2 linked regions of the Homo sapiens genome follow. The protein of the gene in region 1 interacts with the protein of each later gene in a pairwise test. Each region holds a gene or a part of one and is shown on either strand. Other genes may lie near its edges.

Region 1 (7,028 bases):
GAACCCAGGAGACAAGGGCTGCAGTGAGCCAAGACCACGCCACTGCACTCCAGCCTGGGCGACAGAGCCAGACTCCATCTTAAACAAACAAACAAAACAGGAAAACCAAAGTCCTTAATGAAGCTTGCACAGTCCTGCATGGACTGCTTCCTGACTACATTTCTAGGTTCATCCTGCACACATAATCTGATAGAAACCTTGTTCTTGCCCTTCATGGCACTTCATGCAGTTTGTAATTTTACCTTCATAAGTGTGATTATTTATGATTAATGCCTTTCTCCAAAACTAAACTGAAAACTTCATAAGAATAGAGACATTGTAACCCCAGTGCCTGGAAGCCCATGAATTCATTGAATAAATTTATGAATGAATGAATGAATGAACAAATGAAATAATATATGAGGGAATAAATGAACTGCCATACCTAGGCATTAAGAAGGAAAGTGTGTTTTTCATTTTTGAGAACCAGTGCTTAGGAGTAAGTACAGGTTTTCTTCCCTGTCCTTATTCTGTTCCATAGCTACAGGAGATTTATGTTGATTATCTCTGCCAGAAAACAACTGACTATTAAATTGGACTTTCATAGGACATAATAACCTAGGAGTGTTCTGAAGTGTCACGTGTACCTATGAAGTGGGATGGAGGCAATGGGTTTATATTTTGACATATATCATATGCCATGCTACTCAGGGAAATTTACTTTTTAAAATCTTGAATTCGACTTTTTTACCTAAAATATTGGGACTACAAATAGACACTGATTATAACTGCATACAAAACAGATTCAACCACTTCAACTGAAGTGATCATTTGATTTAATAAAATAGCCTAATATTGAGTTGGCTGGATTGGTCAAACTTGTTGTACATGCAGGCAGAGACATAGATCTGTTTTTGATCTGACCGCTAATTTGAGCAACTAATTTTTTAACTGTTCAACATTTTATTACCATCCCAAGTATGTTTGGAACTACAAAGTGCTAGTCCTAATGACTTCAGGTTTACCGTAGGAGGTATTAACTCCACTTGAGATCACAGAGAAGACAGGCCAAGGTTCTTGGAGAAAATGATTTGTGAGTAAGCTTCTGGTCTCCCCTTGTGCTCTGGAAATCCTGAAACCAGAGGGTTTTTGGCCACTAAGTTGAATAGAACCTCAGATGCATGTAGACTTCATCCCAGAGGGGAAGGTAAAGGAAGCTAACTTCTGCCGGATGTGTTCCCAGACCTACTCTCGCCTTTAGGAAGCTTCCAAACAGGCTTGTACTATAGGACCCATCAATTCTCCTTTTCAGTGTTTTCTATAGTATGCACAATTTAGGATCTTTCCAAATTTCTCTTATAAAGTAGTGCTTTGGGGCTCCTGTATGCATTCGAATATTTATTGAGCAATTGCTATGTATTGGACTATGAGGTAGACAATAAACCCTGTGTAGTCAGGGAGCATGCCTAACCTTTACATCACTCTATTTCCAGTGTCTGACACATAATAAGACTTTAATTAAAATATATTGAACAAATGAATGTCAAGTGCTATGTTAGATGCTAGGGATTCAAAACATAACTGGGCAGATGATGACTTGGGACATGACCCTTTGACATTCACTTAGAATGTTGTGGCTACTTAACAAAAGTTATGTGTTAAACCCATGTTTGGCTCCCCTCTGGGAGTCTATACATGGAGGGTGAAATACCCCTTCATGAGCAGGAGGGAAGCCATTCTGAGTCATACTATCCATTTTAGAATAGTGAAGGAAATCAGGGAAAGGTGAGGAGCAATGGTCACACGTTCCACTGTTTACACCATCCAGCAAAGCACTGCTAGGGGAGACCTAAGTTCCTGGCTCAAGAGAGTACAGCAGTGCAGCAGAGCAAAGACTCTTCAGTGGGTTACTAACATCCTCCCTGTTGTGAAGTAAATGGACTGAAAAACAGTCATCTCAGTTATTTTCCAGGTCTAGGAGGCAACCAATATTCCTCCTTTTACGGATCCTGAGGGATAGATAAGTGGGAAGGGAAATAAATTCTTCCACCTCTGCATAGACTGGGGCAGTTTCTGCTCTATGTATTCCTGACAGCCTGACTTGCAATCCGCAAATGGAAAAATCAGACACATAATAGTGAGTCTCTGCTCCTGAAAAATAGATGACGATCCAAATTTTCAGCCAGCCAGGAGGAGAACTGATTTTATGTTTGTTTGTTTGTTTGTTTGTATGTTTGTTTGTTTGTTTTTCTTAGGGGCTTTTCTGCTTTTTTGTCTCTCTGGTACTCAGCTCAAAGGGCTCATGGCTCATGGGCTGGCCAACAGCTCAGCAATTTTGTACTGACAGAGAACTTCCAGTCCTCCATGTATAATTACCCCCACTCATTTTCCTAAGCTTCTTTCCAAACAAGAAAGAGATATTCTGCCTGAGGCTGCATATACCTCTATTTTCATAGAGTCTGAAAGAAAAGCCACGGGATAAATTCCCTGTCCAAATCCCCAAAACCCATGGAAGAAAAGAGCAGAATCAGAATAGAAATACTAGGCTCTTCTTTCTTTGAGTGAATATGATGAGGATTGTCTGGGCAGAATCTGGCCGGAGATTCAATTTCCATTTTCTCTAGGAGATAATTGCTGTTCCTTTGTTTCAAAATACAAATCCACTGTGCATAATAACAATAATACATTAGCTTTCATATATTAGGTTGGTGCAAAAGTAATCGCGGTTTTTGCCATTACTTTTAATGGCACAACAATCCCATGAAATAGATACCTTGTTAGACTCCTTTACAGTGATCCAAGGATATAGCTAACCAGAGATATCACTGGGGCTAAAATTCTGATCTTTCCAATCTTTCCAGAGGAAACAGGGAGAATTAAGTGCATTGTAAATTTGATCCATTCAATGTAGTATAGATTGGAGATGACTAATAATTGATTCCTGGAAGATCTCCATGGATGTGCTACAATGCTTCATTGCCACCAGCCCTTTCCCTCAGGATGGGCCCTTACTTTAGTCTGAAGTTGTATTGCCAAATGTATTCCTAGGAGAGCCAAGGGAGCATATGAGCATGCTTCTCTGCAAAGATTTACATATTGCTTTGTGCAGATCTGTTGCCATATTTTAAAAGTTTAAATTCCGGGCACATAAACTACAGTAAGATCCCTGTTCTCTAAGGATGAGTTTTGTCACCTTAAGCTGCCTTTTTTACATAAAGACACTCTAATACAAGTTCAATTAGAAGTAAATATTTATTTTAGGTGAGTCATAAAATCTTCAGTACACACTGTCTGATTCTGGGTGTGAGGTAGAAGTCCCTGCCCCTACCCCAGGAATTTGCCTGCAAAGGTAGTACATGTGGGGATATTACCAAACTATCTATTCCCTGTATGGAACTGGAATATCAAATCATACAATATATAGAAGGGTACATTGAATAATATGACATGCTATATAAATATGGCATACTATGTTAATAAAAAGTATAATATGGTTTGTATTATTGGTGATAACAATAAATGGAGACTACTTTTCTGTTGCCTTTAGCTTTTCCTTCCTCTTATAGTCACCTAAGAAAGTTTCAGAATGTCCATTATCATACTAAGTTTTTAACATGAAGACCAATTTTATTTCAAACCGAGGGTTTCTGTGGACCGAGAACCACCATAAATACATTTCAAACATATCTGAATATACAAAAGCGAAGTACAGATTATAAGTATAATATGATGCATGAAATAGATCTATGATCACTATGGTGTGAAGTTGTGGTCGTTCTGTCTAGATGATCCAGATGGTCTTCATCAACTAGACGGGACTCCTTTAACCGCTGAAGACATTGTCCATAAAATCGCTGCCAGGATTTATGAAGAAAATGACAGAGCCGTGTTTGACAAGATTGTTTCTAAACTACTTAATCTCGGCCTTGTAAGTCATTTGGTAGGAAATAAACCAAATTCCTAGTGCAGTTTAGAGTATGCCAAGAAGCCAAGTCACTTGCCTCAAGTAGCCAAGTGTTTATAATGTGTCTTCCTTCTACTAGGACCCGTAGGTTTTAAGGACAAGCAAAGCACCATTCTTTTTTTTCTAGGAGTTTATCATCCATCAGAAGAACTAGGCAAGTAGACACACGCCCAAAATGCCAGCTGCTTAAAAACCATAAGAGCCAGAGAATAGCTTATATCCAACTGGCAGTAAGGAAAGGCTTCAGAGGAAGAGGCGTATGAAGGAAGCTTAGAGGGATGGTTAGGATATAACCAGCAGAGGTAAAAGACATGTATGTGACAAAAAAAGAAATAACATGAGCAAAAGCATGTGATGTGTATTTTTGAAACTCCAGGTGATCTAATTTGAATCCACCTCAGCTTGGCTCTTCTGCCCTGACCTGGCCCTGACAGGCTTTATTAAGATGCTAATTTTGTAGGATGTCAAAGGTTATCTGACTATGACCCAAAGCTGTGGAGGGGCAATGCTCAGGGTGTTTCTCAAAATATGTGGTCCATGGGTTTCAACAGATAGAACTAACAGCTTGCATGGTGGGCCCGAAGATACTTCTTCCAGGAGTGCTGAGCAATCCCTATAACAGCCAGCATGTGGTGCAGGCGTAAGTGAGGGCTGTCTGAAAGATGGTTCAGAAGATTCCTCTTTAAAAAATACATGTTTGACTACAGTTTAGTCCACATTATTTTTTAATAACAAGACTGGGAATATAGCAGTTATATATGTTTTGCCTTTTTATGATAGATCACAGAAAGCCAAGCACATACACTGGAAGATGAAGTAGCAGAGGTTTTACAAAAATTAATCTCAAAGGAAGCCAACAATTATGAGGAGGATCCCAATAAGCCCACAAGCTGGACTGAGAATCAGGCTGGAAAAATACCAGAGAAAGTGGTATGTATGTGTATATATGCATATGCATGGGGGTGTGTGTGTGTGTGTGTGTGTGTGTGTGTGTACTTCTATCTGTATAATAATTGCCTTACTTGATACCAAAGAAGATTTGAGGTATGTGGCATTTTTAGCCCATTTATATTCAGGCCAGACATGTTGGCTCAAACCTGTAATCCCAGCACTTTGAGAGGCTGAGGTGGGAGTTGAGACCAGGAGTTCAAGACTAGACCTGGCAACATAATGAGACCCCCATCTCTACAAATAAAAATAATTAGCTGGGTGTGGTGGCACAAGCTTATAGTCTCAGCTACTCAGGAGGCTGAGAGGAAGATCGCCTGAGGCCAGGTGTTTGAGGTTGCAGTGAACTATGATTGCACCACTGCATACCGGTCTGGGTGACAGAGTGAGACCCTGTCTCAAAAAATTAATTAATTAATTAATTTAAAAATATGTATATACATAAAATACCAAAAAGTTAAAAGATATAAATGATCTCTACTCTGAAAATAATGTAAAGATTATGTTATATTCTATTATTTGGTAAAGATTACATCTTATACCCCACAGTAAAATAATACATAATAATATGTGAAGTAACAATATCACATAATAACATCTGTGTGTACAGTCCCAGTGAACTGCAAGCAAACATCTCACAGTTCTTTTGGTATCCAACATCTGTTCACAGCAGATGTCATCATCTGTGCCCAATCCCCCCACAAAGAAGTGGGTTGACTAGATCTTCTGCTACACCAGCTTTTGTGTTCCCCAGAGCTAGCTGCCTAATGCTGCCTCTCTGTTCTTGGCAATGCTCTTCCACCTGCTCCTTCCCCTTTTCATTGGTTTAGATGCCTATTTACCCAGGCTAATTTCATCCTTCCTTCCCTTTGTTGGACTCCTTGCGTCTTCATTTTTTCCTTAGCACCAACCAAGCTGTTGAGATCTTTCTCCCCACCTTGAATTCTCTTTAAAACTTTAGATGAAACTGACCATAAGGGGATATCAAATTCCTCATCTGTCCTTTGATTTTCCTCTGTAAAGCACCCAGACCCATGGCTCCTCATCTCCTCCAGCATCTTATCTCAAATACAAAGACTATAGAGGCTGATGGTTCTGTTTTAGAGAGGAGAGAAAATAGAAATTGGGTCTGGATTTCTTTTTTTTTTTTACTGGATAGCCTAAAAACTTTCCTCTGCTCTCCTTACTTCCAATCCTCACCAGCTGCCATCTTTTAAAGCAGCTTTTGAAGATTCACCCACTCAAAAAAAAAGTTCTAGATTTATCAAAAAAAAAAACCCTTATGACTTTTGCTCAAGCTTACCAGTCTGAGCTAAAATGGACACAGCTATTTCCATAATTCTTCATTCCCATTACATACTCCTATTCACCTATCTCTAAAATGTTCATATGCTTGACCTGTTTACTCATGTTACCTGAATGCATCAATGCAAATAAAACACAAATGAAATATTATTTCAACAAATATTTATTGAATACTAACTCTGTACCAAGCACTGGAAATACCATGCCTATTTAAAAAGACATAATCCCTGACTCATGAAGCTCAAAGTCTAGTGGAAGAGGTAGATCATGTTTAAATCATCATGTATTTTCATTACAATTGCATTAAGTGCTCTGAGGAAAGAAACATGGTTCTATGAGACCTCAAAAAAGGAGGCTGACCTGGACTTAGGCTCAGGAAATGCTTCCCTAAGGAAGTAACTTGAGCTGAGAACCGAAGATCAAATAGGAGTTAACTTGTGAACATGAGAGGCAGCACATAGAGAAGGATGTGTGGAGTATCCAAGCAACTGAAACAAGCACAGTGTTGCTGGCACAGAAAGAAAGAGCAAAAAGAGAAGAGACTGGGGAGGTGGACCCAGGCCAGACCATGCAGCGCCTTATGAGCCATGGATGGACTCTGATCTTTATTGTAAGAACCATGAGAATTTTCTGGTCCCCTGAAGAATTTTAAGCAAAGGAGTTACATGATCAGATTGTTAAAAAGATAACTCTGGCTATAATGTGGAAACGCAGTATTGGGCATAGATTTGGGGAGGGTGATGTTGCAGTTAGCAGGTGAGAAATGAAGGCTGCTTGGACTAGAGTGGCATAGTGGAGGGAGAAATGTGCAAATTTGGGATAAATTTTGAAA
Region 2 (7,582 bases), on another chromosome or scaffold:
CTTTGCAAGGGAAGGGGAAAAATATTTCACTCTTCTTTGACACTGAGTTAAAAAACAGTCATTTGTTAATAAAGCGCACTACAACTAAGAGAATGGAATTTAAATTTTGGAAGCAAAAGATAAAGGTGGTAAAGAGTAAACAAGGAGCGTAAAGAAAAAAAAGTAAAAAGAAGAGAAGGCAGGCAGGCAGGTGAGGACTGAGCAAGGACAAGTAGCCAAGGCCCTGAGGGGCCGGGGTAGACACTATACCCTCCTTGCTGGCACAGTCAGGTGAACGCTGGAGGACCTCAGCTGAAGCGTGCTGCATCTGGACTCCACCGTGAGAGTCTGATCTTCCATGGGAGGGAAGGGCAGGCAGGGAGGCAGTTAGAGACAGGGAAGAAGCAGACAAGAGAAAAAGGAGAAACAAGACACATTGGCCTTCTGGATCTCAATTGCTTCCATATAAATTGAAACAAAATGAGAAGTGTAATGGAGTGTAAGAGCGAGAAGTTTCAAATGAAAAGATTACTAAGGTAGAGGATTGCTTGTATGAATGATAGAAATCAAAATCTTGTCTAGATAAAATATGAAATTGAATAACAAAGAATAAAATGACCAAGATTTAAGAAAATCCGGTCATAAAAACAAACTCATCTGTTCTAATTACTTAACGTTAAATTGTGAATGATTAACTTGAAATTAACAGCACCCTGGTGAGGATGCAAGCTAATTTTCTAAAAATCCATTTTCATACATAGTACATAATTATTCTGAAAACGTTCACAATATAGAGATTCGTTTCTTGGCGGTGATGATAGTTGGCAATTTAGATCTAACAAGAAAATTAAAATTTTGTAAGGCATGCTTAAATAATTCCTTGAAACAGGTTCAGTGATACAAAGATTTATAGGTTATTTTAATGTTTTATACATGCTCTAAAATATTTTATGTCAACAAACTATTGATATATATATATGTGTGTGTACATATACGTGTGTGTATATATATATATATATATATATCATTTTAAATTCTTCTCCAAATACATTTCTATTTGAGAAATAGCTCCCTTTAGAACAAATAACTACTGGCAAAAAATTAGTGACTTTTGGAAATATGTTAAATATAACACATTGAAAAATCTATAAAAACAAAAAAAATTGATGTTGGCAATGTTATGGAGAAAAAGGAATGCTTATACACTGTTGGTGGGAGTGTAAATTAGTTCAGCCATTGTGGAAGACAGTGTGGTGATTCCTCAAAGATGTAAACTACCATTCAACCCAGCAATTCCATTATTGGTTATATACCCAAAGGAATACAAATTGTTCTATTATAAAGACACATGCATGTGTATGTTCATTGCAGCACTATTCACAATAGCAAAGATGTGGAATCAACCTAAATGCCCATCAATTACAGACTGGATAAAGAAAATGTGGCACATATACATCATAGAATACTATGCAGCCAAAAAAAGAATGAGATCATGTCCTTTGCAGGGACATGGATAGAGGCGGAGGCCATTATCTTTAAAAAACTAATGCAGGAAGAGAAAACAAAATACCATATGTTCTCACTTGTAAGTGGGAGCTAAATGATGAGAATACATGAACACAAAGAGGGGAACGACACAGCCTATCAGAGTGTGGATGGTGGGAGGAGGGAGAGGATCAGGAAAAATAACTAATGGGTAGTAGGCTTAATACCTGGGTGATGAAATAATCTGTACAACAAACTTCCATGACAGAAGTTTACCTATGTAACAAACCTGCACATGTACCCCTGAACTTGAAAGTTAAAAAATATGTTTGGGGAGTTTGATTTTGAAAAAACAGGCTGGTGAATAGAATTTTCCTAATTCAGCAACTGTTCTCTTATTTGGAAGATGTATGCCCCATAGCATCAAGGCTGTGATCTAATGTTTATTCTTGCTTTCCATTGGTGCTGCCCCAAATAGAAGTCCCGGCCTATGCCTTTGCTTTTCTTAGACCAGGAAAAGCAACTGGACAACTGGGGGTTTTTGTCAAAGAAACTAAATTCTGGACTTGGGTCTTTAATGATTAAATCCATCCCATATTTATTTCTGTATTTCCATCTCTAGCAGTGTCTGAATCATAGTTTTTATTGTAGAAATATCATAGAATGGACTTAAATACAAATTCTAGCTCTACCAATTATAAGTCAAAATAGTGGGCAACTTACTTATTTCTGAGCTTTAGTTTCTTCATCTGTAAAATGGAGATAAAAATACCTACTTGTTATAGTTGTCCGGAGGATTAAATTAGGTTCCAAGTACAGTGCTTGGATCATAACAGAACTCAGTAAGTGAGAGGTATTTATCATAGTCTCATAAGATAGGCAGAAATTCAATAGCCCACAATGGCTTATTGTTCTACCCACATCTTGAGCCTAGTGGAGCCAATCCATCCCAGCAACAGCCTCCTGGCATCTCACATCTACTTGGAGATTTTGAATGAGGTTTTGCATGTCTTTTGGATGATTGAAGATATTTCCAGGCAAGATGTTGACTCTGGGGCTTTAGAAGAACCGTAGCTTCTGGTTCTTGCCAAAAAGTTTAGTTCCACATAAATGAATTAGCCTAGTCAGGATGACTTTCTGGAGGGCTTTTGAGACCTATGCTGAACAAACTCAACATTTTAAGAATAATTGCAGAGTTTTCTAAAGCTGCGTTGATACTGGTTAGTTGAACTGGTCACACAGAACTGCTGGACAGAAAATTAGGTCAAACTTGGAGCAGCTAGCCAGGGCTTTGTTAAGATTTAAGGCAATCTTAGCTAAGGATGTCAGTGAATGAGCTGGTGTCATTGAGATGATGCTTGAGAAATGGGTCATATTTAGGTCTCTTCAACCCAGCATTTGATCATGCCCTAAAAAACCACTATGAGGCAAAATTTGTTGGATGAATTGGACATATAACCCCAGTCTGAGTGTATATGAATTCATATCAATCCACAAATGATGATCTCCTAGTCGTTTAGGAAAACCAAATAGGGAGAATCGAGGCACATTTTTCCAAGATTTTTTCTGTAAGACTTTAAGCCATTTCCTATTTTTTCGAGGAATTCAAAAGTACTAACATAGTTAGAAATCCTTGTAAGAAAACCTGATAGTGAGAAATCTCAGCTTAGGCCTTTTATTCCAGGACATTGTTTCCCCCTGAATTTCTAGGTTGAACCCATTGGCTATCCAAATGGTCCAAACACTGCTAGCTAACCTCTCTATTGATGCTTTCCAATTTATATGAAAATTATGTGTTTATTTGCATGTCATCCCCATTAGCTGAAAGGCTCATCAAAGGCAAAAAAATCACTTATTTTTGTATTAGTTAACAATTGTGCATTTAGCAATGTATCTGGCACCTAGTAGGTATTACAATTTATTGAGTCAGTGGCTGATTGTTCATTTAGCAGAAACACATGGGATCTCTTATATGGCAAGATTCTGTTGCATTCTTAAAGTATATGTCAACATATACAGTTTTTAGAAACTCATATCTTTAATAAAATAAAGTTTAAAATTTATATCCATATAAATTATTGAAATATATAATCAGGTTATCTGGTAAGGCAGAGGAATGATTATGAATTATAAATCTGAGAGGTTGAAAGTTAATTGCTGTATTATTCCCTGGATTGTTCACATTCATGGAAGGTATTCAACTCATCTGATTCAACAGGAGAAGGGAAATATTTATAGTACAACTTCCTTTCGATTGCAAATGAATTCTAGTTACGTATGTGTCACATTTTTCCCAAACAGTGAAAAGACTTTTTTTTTAAGTAGATGAAAGTATTTTCATCAGCACTCAACTTCTGAGCTTCCCTTTCTGAGATCAGATATTGTGAAAGACAGTAACAGAGATATAAAGAATTATTAGCTACTAAGCTTGAAGTCTGATAAATACCCATTTAAAAAACTATATAAGCTATTAAAGTTGGCTCTCATATAAAAGAGAGAGAACTCTCTGTTTTATTCAAATAAATATGATTTTAAAAGAATGATGGCTGTGGTCATGATAAGAAATATGGCCTTTCATATTTATAATGTGTCCTCCATTCATCTTGGTTATAACAGGAAATGGTAATGTAATTTCTTTGTGGGCAAAGATGAAAAAATAATCCTTGTCTGTAAAACTTTCTTACAACGACGACAACAATTACAACAGTGACACCAAGAAACTATTATAACAAGTTGCTAGAACATAGATGAGATTGTCTTGCAATTAGCCATGTCTGTCTGACACACATTTCTTTCTTTGTAAGAGAAATCGTGCAGAGCAGTTTATTCCGTCTCAAAGATTTTGATAAAAGAAAAAGGAAAACTGCAATTTTTGCCACAAAAAGACAGGTGGCGTAAGCATGCAACTTTTTTTTCTTTTCTTTTCTTTCTTTCTTTTTTTTTTTTTTTAAATATAAAGTGATTATTTTCTCTTGGTTCTTTGAAAAACCTCGCTTGTGCTGGGGTTTGTGGCTGAACCCGGTGACGTCAGTGTGGCAGTGCGGAGTCAGGCGCAGCGGCTCCCTATAAGCAGAGGAGCTGTCCGTGTGCTGAAACGGCCCGAGAAGCTCGCCCGGAGAACGGGGAGGAATATGCTGTGGAGCTCCTCTGCCATATAAACAAAAAGAGGTAAGGCTGCTTTTCTCTTTGATTTATTGGAAAGTTCCAAATTGCATGCTCTTCTTTTAATTCCTAGCTGAGAAGAAAAAGACTGTTTGGCAAGCTTATGTCGATAGGATAACTGAATAGCAACCTGCTGCTCATCAGCCAATGTAAGGACACTACATATGTGTATATACATGATCGGGTCTATGCTTTATACTACTTGATGTTGGATATTTACTAACCAGAATGTTACTTAGATAATCATATAAAAAAGAGTGAAAAAGTTAAGGATTTTAGTGTCAATACACAGATTAATGTAAAGTTAACCAAGCCCAATATCTTGTTTCTTTCCAAAATTTATTATTTCTGCCACTAAGAGCCAGATACGAAGCCAGGGGTATAATTTATATGTTTAATATTCTTAACAGTAGGTTTCCAATGATACAAAGGCTGTCAAGCATGTTAGTCATAAAGGCAACCCATTTTGGAACTAGGTTTTTTTTCTTTGATATTTATCTTACAAGAGCTCTGAATTAACTAACCACATAAAATTCTTTTCTGAACTTGTATATTTGAAAGAGCTTACATTATTATCTCCTAATTTTAGTTCTAAGATGTTAACTTAGGATTTTCCTGAACACTGGATTCTTCCTTTTTCCAGGGCAAAATATTATCTTGGGTTGTAATTTGGCTGTGACCATGAATTACAGAGAAATGATCATTTTGAATACATGATGAAAATACTCATAACTTTGTAAATTGTTATTGTTATTGCTATAATTTGATTTAAAGAGGATGTTCAATATGTTGCTAAAGATTTTGTCTGGGACAAGTATTTCATTTTTTCTGTATCCCAACTAGTTGAATTGCTTAAATTACATATAGTCACCTGCATGTGTCAATGCTCTAGCCTGAATTCAACAGAAAAGACATTTTAACTTGAGAGATTTTAATGATAGCTATCAGGGGAAAAATAATGTTCTAATTATTTGGATTTCAGAAAATTCAATTTTAAATCAAACCCCATATAGAATAGTAGAGCTGTTGAAACATCTTTACTACTTGAAAGAGCTGCTACCTGGGAAAAGAATCCTTTGGGTCTCACTCAAAGGCAATAACTATGTCATTCAAACTGAAGCTGAATAGTTAAGCAAAGGGTAGCACTTCTTAGGCTGTGGTTTAAACAACTGCAATGAGTAGTCTGCTTCAACTTTACAGCAAAGTGCAGTTCCAAGATAATGATTTTAAAGATGAGCATATAATCCACATGTTAAGACTATTTCAGTATTGTGGCTTCAAAAAAAATAAGTTCAGTAAGGTTTTTAAGATTATTATTTCAAATGCCAATGTTGAAAGTTGATTACCAAAGCTACATTAATCCTGAAATAATATAAACAAGAGTGCATAATGTATTTTTATTTGAACCTCATTATTTTATGAATAAAATTACTTATAGTAAACATGTATTTATAATAAATATTTTGGAAGTATCCTCTCAAATGCCTTTCAAGATGTTTCTTTCAATAAATTAAGTACTCTGGTAAACGTGAATCATTTAAATAGGTATATACGTATGCTAAAATGTTTTCATAACTAAGCCATTATTGGGCTCTAAAAAACTGGAAACAAAATCATCAATATGATCTTGTGAACAATGGTATTTTCTACAATTGATGTCTAAGCTAACAGAAAATTGTATACATATAACTTAGCTTATCTATCACAAAACCATGATCTGGTAAAGATATGAACAAACTTGTAAACTCCTCTTACATTCATTTTGTTTACAACAAAATAGCCAATATTAAAATAGTTTTTTCAATGTTAGCAATATTAAATGTAAAACACATAAAAACTAATCCTCTTCCTAATTCCTATGTAAGATTTTAAGGCATCGGAGGAAATAATGAATGGAGATTTTTAAGTAGGAAGAATTCAGCACATCATCTGTGTTTATTTGAATTGGGATTTACATAGTGGTTATTTTAAGATTTTTCTAAACAGTATGAGTGATTTAAGATTTCACAGGTCCATACCAAAATAGACACAGACAGAAGACAAACTGAATCTGAACACTCACAAGTTCAGAAATAGACTAGCTAAAAAAACTTATGTTCTCTCTGTAGCATCTGTTATTATTTACTATACACTCTGAAGGGCTGATGAAAAGTATAACCACAATTGCATTTTGCAAGACAGTCATAATATAAATTATTAGAAGAAATATGAAGCAAAGAGATTTTAAAACACTTTATTGGTTTAGCACGTTCACACAAAAAGAAACTTCATTGGTTTAGTCTACTGGCTGGAATCTGAGAAGACCCGTGTTCTGGAGGTTATTTATGGATCATTGGATTCGGTATCAGATTGAGAACAAGTTATTTCTGAAAAATATATCTGGATAGGACTCCCCAGAAGGTAATTCGGTATGATTGACATATAAAAGTATTACTTTGTCATATATGGTCATGTAACTGCAGCTGTGTTTCAGCAACAAAATTAGATGGACATTTCAGGAAATAAACCACATGTTTTTTGACACAACTTTAAGGACATAATTTGTGGGCGCGTATGTGTAAATGCATGTTTTAAATTAAGCCAACACATTATTTTGCCAATAGACTTCAATATATAAAATAATTAAAACATCTTGGGAAGTATTTGCTGCTTTATTATAGAGAAACAACATGTACTAAACATCAAACTACAAGTTCTGTAAATGAAAAAATAAAATTTAAGAAATCTCATATCAGTGTTTTTGCTGTTGTTTTAACTAAGAGAATGCTATGCAAGTTTTTGGTGAATGAGTAATAATTTTGCTAAAGATTCCTGTGGTTTGCTTGTGGGAATCATGTGGAAAATATTCATGAATTTTTAAAAAGAGTTATCCTAAGCTTAATGTGAAATAATATCTACTATGTTTTTTCCTCACCTCAATGATCAATTATTTCTTTTGCTATAGTGTCTTCTAGTT

The links.
Region 2: the proteins of SCG3 (region 1) and SCG2 interact in a two-hybrid assay, tested with the Homo sapiens proteins (one study listed by IntAct).

The regions. Positions count from the first base shown.
Region 1 is NC_000015.10:51,684,496-51,691,523, forward strand, and holds part of SCG3 (secretogranin-3 isoform 1 precursor), read left to right. Parts: intron 1-3,764; coding exon 3,765-3,907; intron 3,908-4,723; coding exon 4,724-4,873; intron 4,874-7,028. UniProt on the Homo sapiens protein: Member of the granin protein family that regulates the biogenesis of secretory granules. Acts as a sorting receptor for intragranular proteins including chromogranin A/CHGA. May also play a role in angiogenesis.
Region 2 is NC_000002.12:223,599,335-223,606,916, reverse strand, and holds the start of SCG2 (secretogranin-2 precursor), read left to right. Parts: upstream 1-4,555; 5' UTR 4,556-4,632; intron 4,633-7,582. UniProt on the Homo sapiens protein: Neuroendocrine protein of the granin family that regulates the biogenesis of secretory granules.